Homo sapiens: one gene and its partner. The protein of the gene in region 1 interacts with the protein of each later gene in a pairwise test. Each region holds a gene or a part of one and is shown in the gene's direction. Other genes may lie near its edges. The genes, in order: ZMYM3 and RNASEH2B.

Region 1 (5,307 bases):
CCTAGTTGTACCGGGCTCAACTATTCATATGGTGTCAATGCTTGGAAGTGCTGGGTGCAGTCAAAATATGCCAATGGAGAAACCAGCAAGGGTGATGAGCTGCGCTTTGGCCGTAAGTACTTGGGGATGGGGGGTGTGGGGAGGCAGGGACAGGGAGGAGGAGGGGAAAGGGGAGAAGGGGCTGGGCCTGTGATTCAGCTGAAGATGTCTAGAAGTGATAAGGGTGTGATCCCTTAAGGATGCCCTGTGAAGATGGGGAGGAGTTGTAGATTAAAGGGAAATGCTGTCTAGGTTCCAGGTTAGGGGCTCTTTCTGTAATTGTTCAGGAGCTAGGCATGACTAAGGGATGGAGGGGTTAATGGTGATGGAGCTAAGTGAAATTCTCCATGTAGAGTTTTTCTTAATCCTGTCCCTGCACAACATATCACTGCAGCCAAACCCATGCGTATCAAAGAGGATATTCTCGCCTGCTCAGCTGCTGAGCTCAACTACGGTCTGGCCCAGTTTGTGAGAGAAATCACTCGGCCCAATGGTGAACGATATGAACCTGACAGTATCTACTATTTGTGTCTTGGCATCCAGCAGGTACCTCTTGTGCACCACCTCACTTCCTGTCACTCTTAACACAGCAGGCAGGGTCTAAACAGAAATGATTCTGGGTTAGGCACGGTGGCTCACGCCTGTAATCCCAACACTTTGGGAGGCTGAGGCAGGAGGATCGCTTCAAGCCAGGAGTTTGAGACCAGCCTGGGCAACAAAGTGATACCCATCTACCCAAAAAATATTTTTTTAATGAAAAAAAAAAGCAGTTATTCTGTTGCACTCCCTGTTCCTCATCTTGTCCCCTACCTGAAGCAGGCAGCTTGCCTTTAATCTCCTACTCCAAATAGAACATGAGATATCAATACTCTTCTAAAATCAAAACTGCATTCCAGGACCGTTGGCCAAGGAGCAGTCTTCATTGCTATCCAGGTCCCCTTTGTAATCTTTAAGCCCATTCTAGGAGGGGAGGGATGGGTGGAGCTGGGATCCTTGAGTGCTGGGGTAATGTTTAGTTCCCCCTGGGAGAAGTCAACCATGTATTACCTGAGAAGGAGGTGTGGGCTTCTAAAGAACATCTCCTCCAAGCCTCCTCCTCTTCGAGCAAAGCCTGAGTAGCGCAGAGCTGTGGGTATACCTGGGGGAAAGCACTCGAGGCCACCTAATCAAGCAACTGTTTCCCATCGTCTCCTAATGATCAAGGACACCATACCTGGGGGCTTCAGCATCATTATCTTTCTTCTAGGACCTACAGTCTAGCCTTAGGTGTGTCTGTTTTTCTTTCCCCAGTACTTGCTGGAAAATAACCGGATGGTGAACATTTTCACGGACCTTTACTACCTGACTTTTGTTCAAGAACTCAACAAGTCTCTGAGTACCTGGCAGCCCACACTCCTCCCCAACAGTAAGGAACAGGGACGTAGCAACCCCTACCCGCTTTCTCCATTCTTCCAATCCACCATCCCGAGAGTCCTGTGCTGTTTGGTCTGCCACTCTTCACAAAGGGCCCGAGGGCAGGAGCGTGTAGCTGGATGCCTCAGGGTTTAGAGTTAAAGGAGCACAGGAGCGCCTGTTCTTGAACGTGAGATGGGGATCAAGACTTAGGTCTGAAGAGCTATCTCTAGGACCAGAAAAAGATGGCCTGGGTTTGGGTGGTAAGTAAAGAAAGAAAGCAAGAAATCGTGGGACTCCTCAAGGTTTACATTTACTTGTCTACAACTTGAGGGTGGTGAGAGGCGTTCCAAATGCAGGTGTGGAAAGTATATATTTTTTAAAGCCCAGTCCCACTGTGTAGTGTAGCAAGTGTAGCGAAGTGACAGTGTTTTATATACAAAGGTTACTCACCAAATGAGAATTGTGTGGGAAATGAGCAGGGCACATGGGATGGGAAGTGGTTGGGTTTGGGTAGCCACTCCCTCCTGACTGGCCTCTCCCCCTTGACCATTGTAGATACGGTGTTCTCTCGAGTGGAGGAGGAGCACCTCTGGGAGTGTAAGCAACTGGGGGTCTACTCGCCCTTTGTCCTCCTCAACACCCTCATGTTCTTCAACACTAAGTTTTTTGGGCTGCAGACAGCTGAGGAACACATGCAACTCTCCTTCACCAATGTGGTGCGGCAGTCCCGCAAGTGTACCACCCCTCGGGGCACCACCAAGGTGGTGAGCATCCGCTACTATGCCCCAGTCCGCCAGAGGAAAGGGCGAGGTACGAGGCTGCCCCCTCCCCTGTGCTTTTGCCCCTTCTCTGCCTTCCCCTTCCATGCCCTGCCATAACCCACCATACCTGCCAGGTCGGCCCTCTCCTTGGCGCCTAGCTTCCCTCTCCTGTTCCTGTGTGCAGAAAGGGTAGAAACAGCCAGTCCTCCTACCTGATAGGCAGTAGCTGTTGCATAAATAAGAGGTCACCCTCTGGCCTGTTTCCCCTCTTTCCTCATTTAAGACAGTTTACTTGCTTGCCTGCTTTTTCTGGGTGGTGGACAGGTAGGAAACCATTGGGTGTGTTTGGCTGTCGGGGAGGGTAGAATGACAGGCTTTCTGTGATTCTTTGCTATCGGGTCTAACAACAACTGCACCTTGGTTTCCATTTTTTCTGTCCCTGGACTTCTGTCCTGTCTGAGTGAAGTTTCCAAGGTCCTTTCTCTGGACCCATGCTTCTACCTGGACTAATGCACAAGGGGTTGGGGTCATTGCTGTTTCTCTATCCCAGAAGGCAAGCCCACCCTTGCAGTAGGGTCTGTTTTATCAGGTCTTTTGAATAACTTCTGAGATCACCTCTTCAAGATAGCAACTTGGGGGAGATTTTAAAGAGAGTCTTTGGCAGTGGGAACTGGGGAGGGTTGCATAACAACAGCCCGACAGGATGTTGGGTTGGCGTGGGAGAGGGAGACTGACCTCTTCTTCCACCTCTCCATCTTGATGAGACTGTAATTTGTGTCGTGACGCCTTCTCCCTGTGCCCTGAACTGTGCTCTTGGATGTGGCTCATGGAGCCTGTGTTCTTAATGAGTCTGAATCATTTCCCTCCCCTATAGACACGGGTCCTGGAAAACGGAAGAGAGAAGATGAAGCCCCTATCTTAGAGCAGCGTGAGAACCGCATGAATCCCCTCCGCTGCCCTGTCAAGTTCTATGAATTCTATCTCTCAAAATGGTGAGTTGGTGGGTTGGCAGGAAAAGCGTTAGCATGGGGACCCGAGGGATCTACTTTGCCTTGGTACTGATCTTCTGTCCTGCCACCCCCACTCCCACTCCCACCCCCGATGTTGCAGTCCTGAAAGCCTCCGGACTCGCAACGATGTGTTCTACCTGCAACCTGAACGGTCCTGCATCGCCGAGTCACCTCTCTGGTATTCTGTGATCCCCATGGACCGCAGCATGTTGGAGAGCATGCTCAATCGCATCCTGGCTGTGCGCGAGATTTATGAGGAACTGGGTCGTCCTGGGGAGGAAGACCTGGACTGAGCTCGTGTGCCATCCATATCCATCTTTCACATCAATGTCTGTCCTGTGGCCATGTCCCTCAGGGTGACAGGCCCAGGAACCAATGCTACTCATTCTGAAGGGCCCTGACTGCTCCTTTCCGCTCACCCATTCCCTGCCTTCTCTAGGAACCCTGGCTTTTATCTTCTTCCGTACCACTTGACAACCATGGGGCCCTGGTCTTCTGTACTCAGGGGCTGGTCTCCCAGTGATGGGCAAAAGCCAGCTTGCCCGTTTTCTTTATGCTTCAGAGTAAACCCCTCCTTCTGGGTCCAGACTCTGGGTGGAGTGTTAATAGCTCTGGTGATCCTGTTGGCTTTGGGTTTCCTGACCCATCCCGCATAGGTAGAGCCTCTTGTTCCTAGGCATGACCTAGGGAAAAACCCAGCTGCCTTCTCTGCCCTGTGCCCACTCCCTTCTCTACTCTTCCCCAGCACCATGCCAAAAGGTCTTATCTGAAAGGTAAGAAATAAACAATGAAAGCGATGAGGGGACCATTTACATAAAACACAGAGCTTAGACACTCTTCCCCTCCTATGAAATAATTGGTTGTTGGCACCATCTCACCACCGCATATCCCTCACCCCCTCGGCAAGCACCAATCCTTGGTGCTGCCGTTTTTAAAATCTTCCAAATGCCTTTTTTTCCTCAGAGGCAGAGAATGACTAAGTACGGGGAGCAGACTCCTGTTGTGCAGACTCCTGTCCCCTTGGTTTCTGTGTTTGTCTCTCTGCCATCTTAGGTTGCCATGAGCCATGGTGTCAACATGCTTAGCCCCCTCTGTAACTGCCTCCCTTTAGTTCAATGGACAGACCTCCCAAGGCAAAAACTACCTTCTGACTTGGGTTGAGGCTGGGTTCCCCTCTATTGTTCCCCTATCATAAGAGCTAGGCCAAGCCTATGGGACCTTGAGTCATGCAGGATGGGATCTGTGGTCAAAGGACAGGCGAGGAGCTGTGGGCGCAGGGCCTGCCGCCACTGCCTACATCTTCTCTCTTCCCCATCTTGCATTGGAGGTCCCAGAAAACAATTAGCTTCTGGCAAAGGGGGTACCCACTTCTTTCCCTGTTGACTTTGCTGTTTCCCAGGCTCCTTTTTGTGTTTTTATAACTGTCACCAGTTAGCCACTGTTTAAATTGTATATATTGTTCTGAGGCGCCTGGCCTGTCCCTTCAGTGAGCCATGCCCACCCTTGTGTTGTAGTGAGAAGCTGTTGTCACGACTAACCTTCTGTCTCTGAAATTGTTTGTTTCAAATAAAGAGTTAAAATTGTCTTTTGTCTTTTCTGGGTGATGGATATAGAGGAGCAACACTGGATAACTTCAAATCTCTCCAAGTGTAAACAAGTCAGGTGTTTGAGAATCGTTCTTACTTTACTGTCTTACTTTGGATCTACTGGGAATGTGGTGTTTTTTTTGTTTTTTTTGTTTTTGTTTTTGTTTTTTTTTTATAACAAGTTTCCAAACACTTAAGGAAAAAAAAATACTCACTCACTAGCTATGTATTAAGGACCTATTATGTTTAAAGACCTAGATTACGTGCTTCAAAAAATACAAAAAGACTGGTTAGACCAGGATCCAATCCCCAGCAGGCTCCCAGGCTATAGGGGAGACCAAATAGTACACAATTAGTCATAATACAGGCAGAATAAAATGAATAGTGCTATGGGAGGACAGAGGAATAAATAACTCACTTCAGGTTTACAGGGAGGCTGGGTGCAGTGGCTTGCGTCTGTAATCCCAGTACTTTGGGAGGCCAAGGTGGGAGGATTCCTTGAACCCAGGAGTTCAA
Region 2 (7,290 bases), on another chromosome or scaffold:
ATACTTCCTACCTCCCATGGGATGGAGAGATGGAATGTGGGAGGCAAGGCCAGTGTGAGCACTGGCTCTGAGGTTTAGGCCTCGATATTCAGGAGAGTGGTGTAGGAGGAAGATGAACCACTGGGTTTTAGACACATGGAGGCTTAGTTCAGGGCTTTGGGCCTCCCGGTTAGTTTGTTTAGTCTTGTTGATCTAGGAGGAGATCACACCAGATGAAAGGATACAGTTGACTTTGGAGGAGGGTGAAGCAGAGCTGGGAAAAGAATCAGATAAGTCATTAGAGACATAAAAAAATAGAAAGCAATTTTATATATGCCATGGAGGAGAGGTTGTTAGGAGGTACTGAGGAAAGTGCAGACCTAGTGATCTTGGTAAAGTGAACATCAGATCCACAGCTTTGATGTCAGCATGGTTGGGAGTTGGGTGCTCTTGCCTACTTCCTCAGTGACTTAGGAGAGTTTACTTCATGTCACTCAGAGCCAGTCTTCGAAGATGGGGACAAATCATGGTTTATTAATTGATTCTGAGATTCATTCTGATCATTCAATAAGAAAATGTATAAAATGTGCCTAGCACAGACCTGAATAAACATTAGTTTCTTATGTTTTATTAACAAATCATATTTTTCATCACAATATCTTAGCTAATATTATGTATTTGCTAAGTGGCAGGTGTTGTGCTCTAGGATTTGTATGGATTATCACATTTCATGCTCAGAATAGCCCAGTGAGAAAAAAACCTCTCTTTACACATGGGGGAACAGGCTTTGAGCACGAGGCGGCTTCCCAAGGAGACAGCATGTGCTGGGGTATGCATGAGCCCTGGTAGCATGGCTCAGTCTGTGCTCTCTGCCCCTTCTTAGAGAATAATTCCCAGAGGTAGAGGAGAAGCCTCCTAGTGGGGCTCAGGGAGTGGGAGACAGGAAGGAAAACAGCAGCAGATGGTAGACATTCTTTGAGAAAATTTGGAGGTAGAGGCAAGAAAGAAGTGAGATGCCAGATCAGGGTAGGATTTTCAGGAGAACCTTGAGCAGTGAGCTTCTTTTGGAGTTTTTTTTTCCTCAGGCAATGAACATAACTTCTAAAAGCCATTCAGCGTCATATATTTATTTAGTGATTGCTGTATGCTCTTAAAATTCCCCTGGTTTGTACATCGGTTGGGACATGGGCTCCAGGGAAATTGAGTCCGGTCTCATTGGCTTTGGCTTACAGTAGGCTGTTTGCCCAGGTAGTCCTGGCTCCAAAACAGCAGACATTGCACCTTGGAATTCTGACACTCCTGACAATGCTTTTGCACCTGTCCCTCTTTTTTGTTACTGTAGTGACATGTCCTGAGAAGATGGCTGCAGATGTCCAGCCCCCAATCCATCCTGCCTCATCTTGCCTGCAGCATTGACAACCATAGGCTGAAACAGAGAGGAAATTCACAGGAACTAAGGCCAGGGACCTCCCAACCTCTCTCCCATACAGTTTAACAGACTGCAGAAAATGAACCCTGAATGGGCAGTTTTCATTTCCCATCAAAAGGTGGGAGGGAGAAAGAGCCTCATTCTATATAACTCAGAGGTGGTAAATTCACATCAGGCCCAAGGGTTGCTAGTGGTCATAAAGATAAATCCTGCATGGACAGAGGAGGCTGGAATAGAAGTGCTGCCCTTGCTAATTGCACAGACAGAAGAAATCCCATGAATGAAAAGGGTTGCAGAGGAAATCATGGTTTAATGTCATGGTATATAAGGCTGGGTGGATTGTGGGGAAGTTAAGTGTAATTTATAAGAGGTGAAACTTTTATCTCCATAAAGGGCCAGATTGAGCCTACCATAAATCTAAATCTTCTCAAATAGCTATGATTATGTTGGTAATATGTTAAAAGATAGATAGATCTTTTTTTAATGCTCCCCCAATCCCCAATACCAGGCCACTACTGAGTAGTTAACAAGATTTTTTTCCTGAATGTATGTAGTGAACTTCATAGATACCTGCATTTCGTTTCAATTTTCTTTATTGGGATTTTCATTTTTATTTTAAGAAAAAAAGTGGTTCATTGAAAACATTGAGGTGAGCTTAAAATTATTCAGAACAGTTAAGACTGCTTAGTATGCTAATGTGAACACAAAATATCTGAGACAGGTCTCAGTCAATTTAGGAAAGTTTATTTTACCAAAGTTAAAGATGCACCCATGACACAGCCTCAGGAAGTCCTGAGACATGTGCCCCACGGTGGTTGGGGGTACAGTTTGCTTTTATGTATTTCAGGGAGACATGAGACATCAATCAATATGTGTAAGATGTACATTGGTTTAGTCCAGTAAGGCAGCAACAACTCAAAGTGGGGGTTTCCACGTTAGACATAGATAGGAGACAAAAGGTGGCATTCTTTTGATCAGCCTTCCACTGAATACACAATGTAGTCTGGCTTGAGTGTGGAGCCATTGCTAGGGACCGGCCCTCTTCTGCCCAGAATTTCCCTGCCTCCTGTCCCTATCAACAAGATTATTTTCCTTTCACATTAGTTTGCTGAGGTTTTAAAATTACCTTTTCTACAGAGTTGTTTGTATAATTTGAAGGTTTTCTTAAATTCTTACTCATTTAGTGGTTGATGACTCCTGAGGTAGCCACATTACTACTAACATTTAAAAAAACATTTCAAGTATGTTCTCAGGTTTGTAAATTAAGCTTTTCAAGAATTTAAACTTACAAAATATTCTTTAAATGGTTAACTTGTATATGATACAACCTTAGGAGTTTATTTTTTTTTTAATTCATTGTGCTGAGTCTTTTTTTTCTTTTAAGGTAATCCAGAAATAGACAACAAGAAATATTACAAGTACAGCAAAGAGAAGACATTAAAGTGGCTGGAAAAAAAGGTATAGTTCCTCTCTAGTGCCTTGTGGTAAAAGTAAAAATTCAGTTCTCTAAGAAATTTTCAGAGAAGGCAGTAAGTCTGAATCCAGAGACCATCTTGTATATTCAGTGAAAAGAGGAAAATTGTGTAGAGATACCAAGTATGAGAAGAAGGCTTTGACTTTTTAATCCTCCCTAACTTCTGTATCTCTGAAGTTAGCTTTATGTTTTCTTGTGACCTGCATTCTCGTTTCTCCCTGCTCCTACTACGGAATGAAATAATTTGTTGGTGTAGATTTGAGTCTTCCAAGTAAGAGGATACCAGGCTTGGCACTTGTTGGCCACTGTCAGTCCTGCAGGTGTCTCCAAGGGTGATGCTTACACACAGCCAGGCAAAGGGACCCAGGGACACAGCCAGGCAAAGGTGTTCAGGTTTAGAGGAAGTATGTCCTGCTCTCAGGGTCTGGACACTGATGAGGGGTCATCTTACAGGCAAACCCTGTATCTTAGTGATTCTAAGAATCTTGACCTAATGGATGGACTGGGGCAGTGAATTTCAAATCAATTTAGTAGGTAACAACCAGTATTTCTCTTGGAATGAAACAGATTGTGATGGGATGGGACGGGACAGGACGGGATGGGATGGGACGGGACGGACGGGACGTGATGGGACGGGACGGGATGGGATGGGACGGGATGGGATGGGATGGGTTAAAATATAGCAGAGGAAGGGCAGGTATTAAGTATGGCTCTGTGAAATGTATTTATATGTGTTTAAGTATTGGGTTGCTGTATATTTCTTACTATGGGTTGTGATAAAAAAAAAACTTTGAAAGCCACTGGTCTAAGGATAATATGTACTTTCACATTGATTAAGAATCTCGCTAAACCATATAGAATAATGATAAAGTTTTTGCAAGATCAGTGGATACCAGTAGTTGTAGTACTGTTTCCTAAGATTCTCTTCCATCTTTTGTGTGAAAAGTCATGTTTGTCTGCATGTTCTCTCTCATAAGTGGGAGTTGAACAGTAAGAACACATGAACACAGGGAGGGGAACATCACACACCGGGGCTGTTTCGGGGGTTAGGGGCAAGAGGAGGGAGAGCATTAGGACAAATATGTAATACATGTGGGGCTTAAAACCTAGATGATGGGTTGATGGGTGCAGCAAACCACTGTGGTACATGTATACCTGTATGACAAACCTGCATGTTCTGCACATGTATCCCAGAACTTAAAGTATAATAAATAAAAATAAATAATAATAAATAATAAATAAATTGTGTTTATTTGTCATACCATGTTACCAGGCTCATTGAAAGCCTGGGAAGCTGGAAATGAGTCCAGTAGAATAATCAGTCTCCTAATGTGCAAAGTAGTGGAAAGATTTAGAGTGCCATGTTTCATTTTTTATTTGTGATATAGTAGTAGTAGTATTCCATGTAGGCGAAGAATGAGAATAAATGCGGAGCAGAATCCTTGATGTTTACTTTTGCTCTTAGCCAAGGAAAATGACATGAATAGCGAAGAGGAGTTTATACTTACTGATTATATTTCCTAGGAAGTGGGAAATTTATATTATTCTATTTAGGAAGTTATTACATATAAATTTTGTGCCAGGTTCTATTGTAAGGGCTTTATTTACATATATTACCTCATTTAATTTTCACAGTAGTCTTATGAGGTGAATGCTATTTTTTTCCCCCATTTCACAGATAGAGCCACAGAAAGGTTAAGTAACTAGCCGTGGTTACAGAGCCAAGCCCAGCAGCCTGACTCCAGAGTCAGCTCTCAGTTATCACAATATGTTGCCTTCTCATATTGTGTAGGCCATGGAAGTCCATGTATTGAGATCATCCAGATATTGCTGCCACTCAGCCTTTCTTCAAATGGGCAACCATTTCTCATCTTCTGGTGTCTGGTGAAGATACTTCTAGGTTCTCAAATACTTCTTTGCAGATCTCTTAAATGGTCTGAAGGCCACCTATGAATTCATAGATTTCTAAAGTTAAGTTGAAAATACCCTGCCTTTCCCCTCTTGGTTGCTTCATAGGTTAATCAAACTGTGGCAGCATTAAAAACCAATAATGTGAATGTCAGTTCCCGGGTACAGTCAACTGCATTTTTCTCTGGTGACCAAGCTTCCACTGACAAGGAAGGTAAGTAAAGCATTTTATCAGAAAAGATTTTTGTCTGGAGTAAGTTGCTTATGTGTAAATGCCTATCTTAGGATTTAAAAATCTTAATATCACAGAAGCCTCATATTCCTACCAATGCCTCATACACATTGTGGCAGGTGTGCATCTTATTTCAGAAGCGAAGAATATTTCTACCATAGGTTACTTCTGTCATTCATTGATACTTAAGTTATTTATTCAGCAAATATTTCTTTTACATTGATAGTAGTAACAACCCTGGCTATCATTTATTGAGGGTGTATTGTGTGCCAGGCCCTTTGCTAAGTTGCCACTATACAAACATGATCTCATCCAACCCTCCCAGTAAATTTCATAATGAGCATCTTGAGGCCCTGTGCAAAGTCTCACAACTAGTAAATGCCAAAGCTGAGCTACTTATGGAGCTTGTCTCTGAAGCCCACACTTGTAATCTTTTTGTGATACTGTTCCTGTGGCACAGTTGTACTGTTCCAGTGGCTGCATCTGTTTGCATTTTCTTCTCAAGATGCATGTTTCCTGATACAGGGATCAATATATTTTGATTTTAGATGAAAATTGATTTACTTGGCAATTTTTCTTTTAGGTTATTCTTTTATAATCTAAAAAAGGTATATTATTTTCTTTTCCAAGTAGAGTCCTCTTATTTTTATATGTATAGTTGAATAAGAACAGCTATATAATGCAGTTAACAATCTCAAATGGTGAGACAGAAATTATTCTGACGTTAAACTCCAATTCATTGTTCCCTTATTCAGGGTATACATATGGCTTTAGTCATTACATAAATAAAAACTAGGAATAGTGGCCTGTTTGTGATTGATAGTAATTCAGGCAATCTGATTTGCAGGAATCTACCTTGCATGTATAGGTAGTTGGCTACTGCCATTCTGGGAGTGGTGGACAGCACCTTTGCCATACTGAGTTACCAGCTGTCAGTGTCTTTAATTGGCTTTAACAATAGAAGATGAGGGATTGAGATAGATGATTAATGGATAGATAGGTGGGTGGATAGATGCATCCATGGATGGATGGATGGAACCATAGATTTTGTTTTAAAAGTAGGAGAAGGGATGTTAGAGGTTATTTAGACAGATCATCTCATTTTTTAAATGGAGAGGTAGGTAACTTATCCTCAAGATCTTCTGTTCTAAGTCTAGTGCTTTTACCAGTACTCTACATATTAAGGTTCTGGGCTTGGCTATATTGCCATTTAGTGTCCTGACCATAAAGTAAACTTTACATATTTTACATTATTTCATTTTTTAGATATTTAGGTTGGTTTGGTACCAGAAGCAGCAAATGAACTATATGTTGACTTTCTTAAAATAGTTTTCTTGGTCTAGTCATGACTCATTGGATAATGACTATCCCAGATCCATGAGCAATTTTAAGAAGGGTCAAATGATAACTTTCAGTTCTCCATTGACAATGAAAATCTCTTACTGAAGACTTTTTGACATCAGGTGGTCCCCAGACGGCAGTCATTTTCTATGTAATACTGAGGCAAATTGTTACTTTGACTTGAGAGCAGAGGAGAATGGAAAAAAGGAAGTGAGTGAATATCCCAGCAGCAAACCTGGGGTCTGCTTTTGGTGCTTTATATCCCCACGTGGTTATCCCATCTTATGATTAAGTTTGATTATCTGCTTGTATTCTACATAAAATACTGAATTCAGGAACAGAGTTTTGAAACATTTTATTGTCTTCTTATGTAACTGTATTTCTAATTGCTGCCAGAGCTGCATTTTAGTACTGAGAATCCAAATGCTTTAGAATTAATGATGATAAATTCTGCTGAGTTAGTTGTTTAAGTTTAAGTATTTTATTAGTTTGGGAGTGTGTGTGTGTGTGTGTGTGTGTGTGTGTGTGTGTGTATGTAGAACTATGTATATAGAACAATATGTATGTATAGAACTATATATATATATTTCAGGGTTCTTATAAAGCAAATACCTAGTAGTAGAGACATGGTATTTTATTTCTCTTAAATGAGTACACTCATTACTGTTGAATAATTAGATTTATTCTTTATTGAAGCAGGCTTAGAAAAGATTACCCTTTTAAAAAAGACATGACTATTTCATATTGTTGTAGATGATTTTTAAACTTTATTTGTATTCAGTGGTTTCAAATAAGAAAGCAACCCTGAGTTTTTGTTTTTAATGTCATTTAGGGAGCATCTACTGTATTATACTTGTTTTATCTTATATCTTTGGTATCATCACATGTCATATCTCATCCCTCATATCTTCCCACTAGTCTGACCGA

The links.
Region 2: the proteins of ZMYM3 (region 1) and RNASEH2B interact in binary tests that used the Homo sapiens proteins (3 or more experiments, as listed by UniProt).

Annotation. Positions count from the first base shown.
Region 1 is NC_000023.11:71,239,107-71,244,413, reverse strand, and holds the end of ZMYM3 (zinc finger MYM-type protein 3), read left to right. Parts: coding exon 1-112; intron 113-433; coding exon 434-585; intron 586-1,329; coding exon 1,330-1,444; intron 1,445-1,989; coding exon 1,990-2,244; intron 2,245-3,069; coding exon 3,070-3,187; intron 3,188-3,305; coding exon 3,306-3,498; 3' UTR 3,499-4,790; downstream 4,791-5,307. UniProt on the Homo sapiens protein: Plays a role in the regulation of cell morphology and cytoskeletal organization.
Region 2 is NC_000013.11:50,940,529-50,947,818, forward strand, and holds part of RNASEH2B (ribonuclease H2 subunit B), read left to right. Parts: intron 1-1,322; exon of another isoform or gene 1,323-1,498; coding exon of another isoform or gene 1,499-1,526; intron 1,527-2,792; coding exon 2,793-2,866; intron 2,867-4,898; coding exon 4,899-5,004; intron 5,005-7,290. UniProt on the Homo sapiens protein: Non catalytic subunit of RNase H2, an endonuclease that specifically degrades the RNA of RNA:DNA hybrids. Participates in DNA replication, possibly by mediating the removal of lagging-strand Okazaki fragment RNA primers during DNA replication.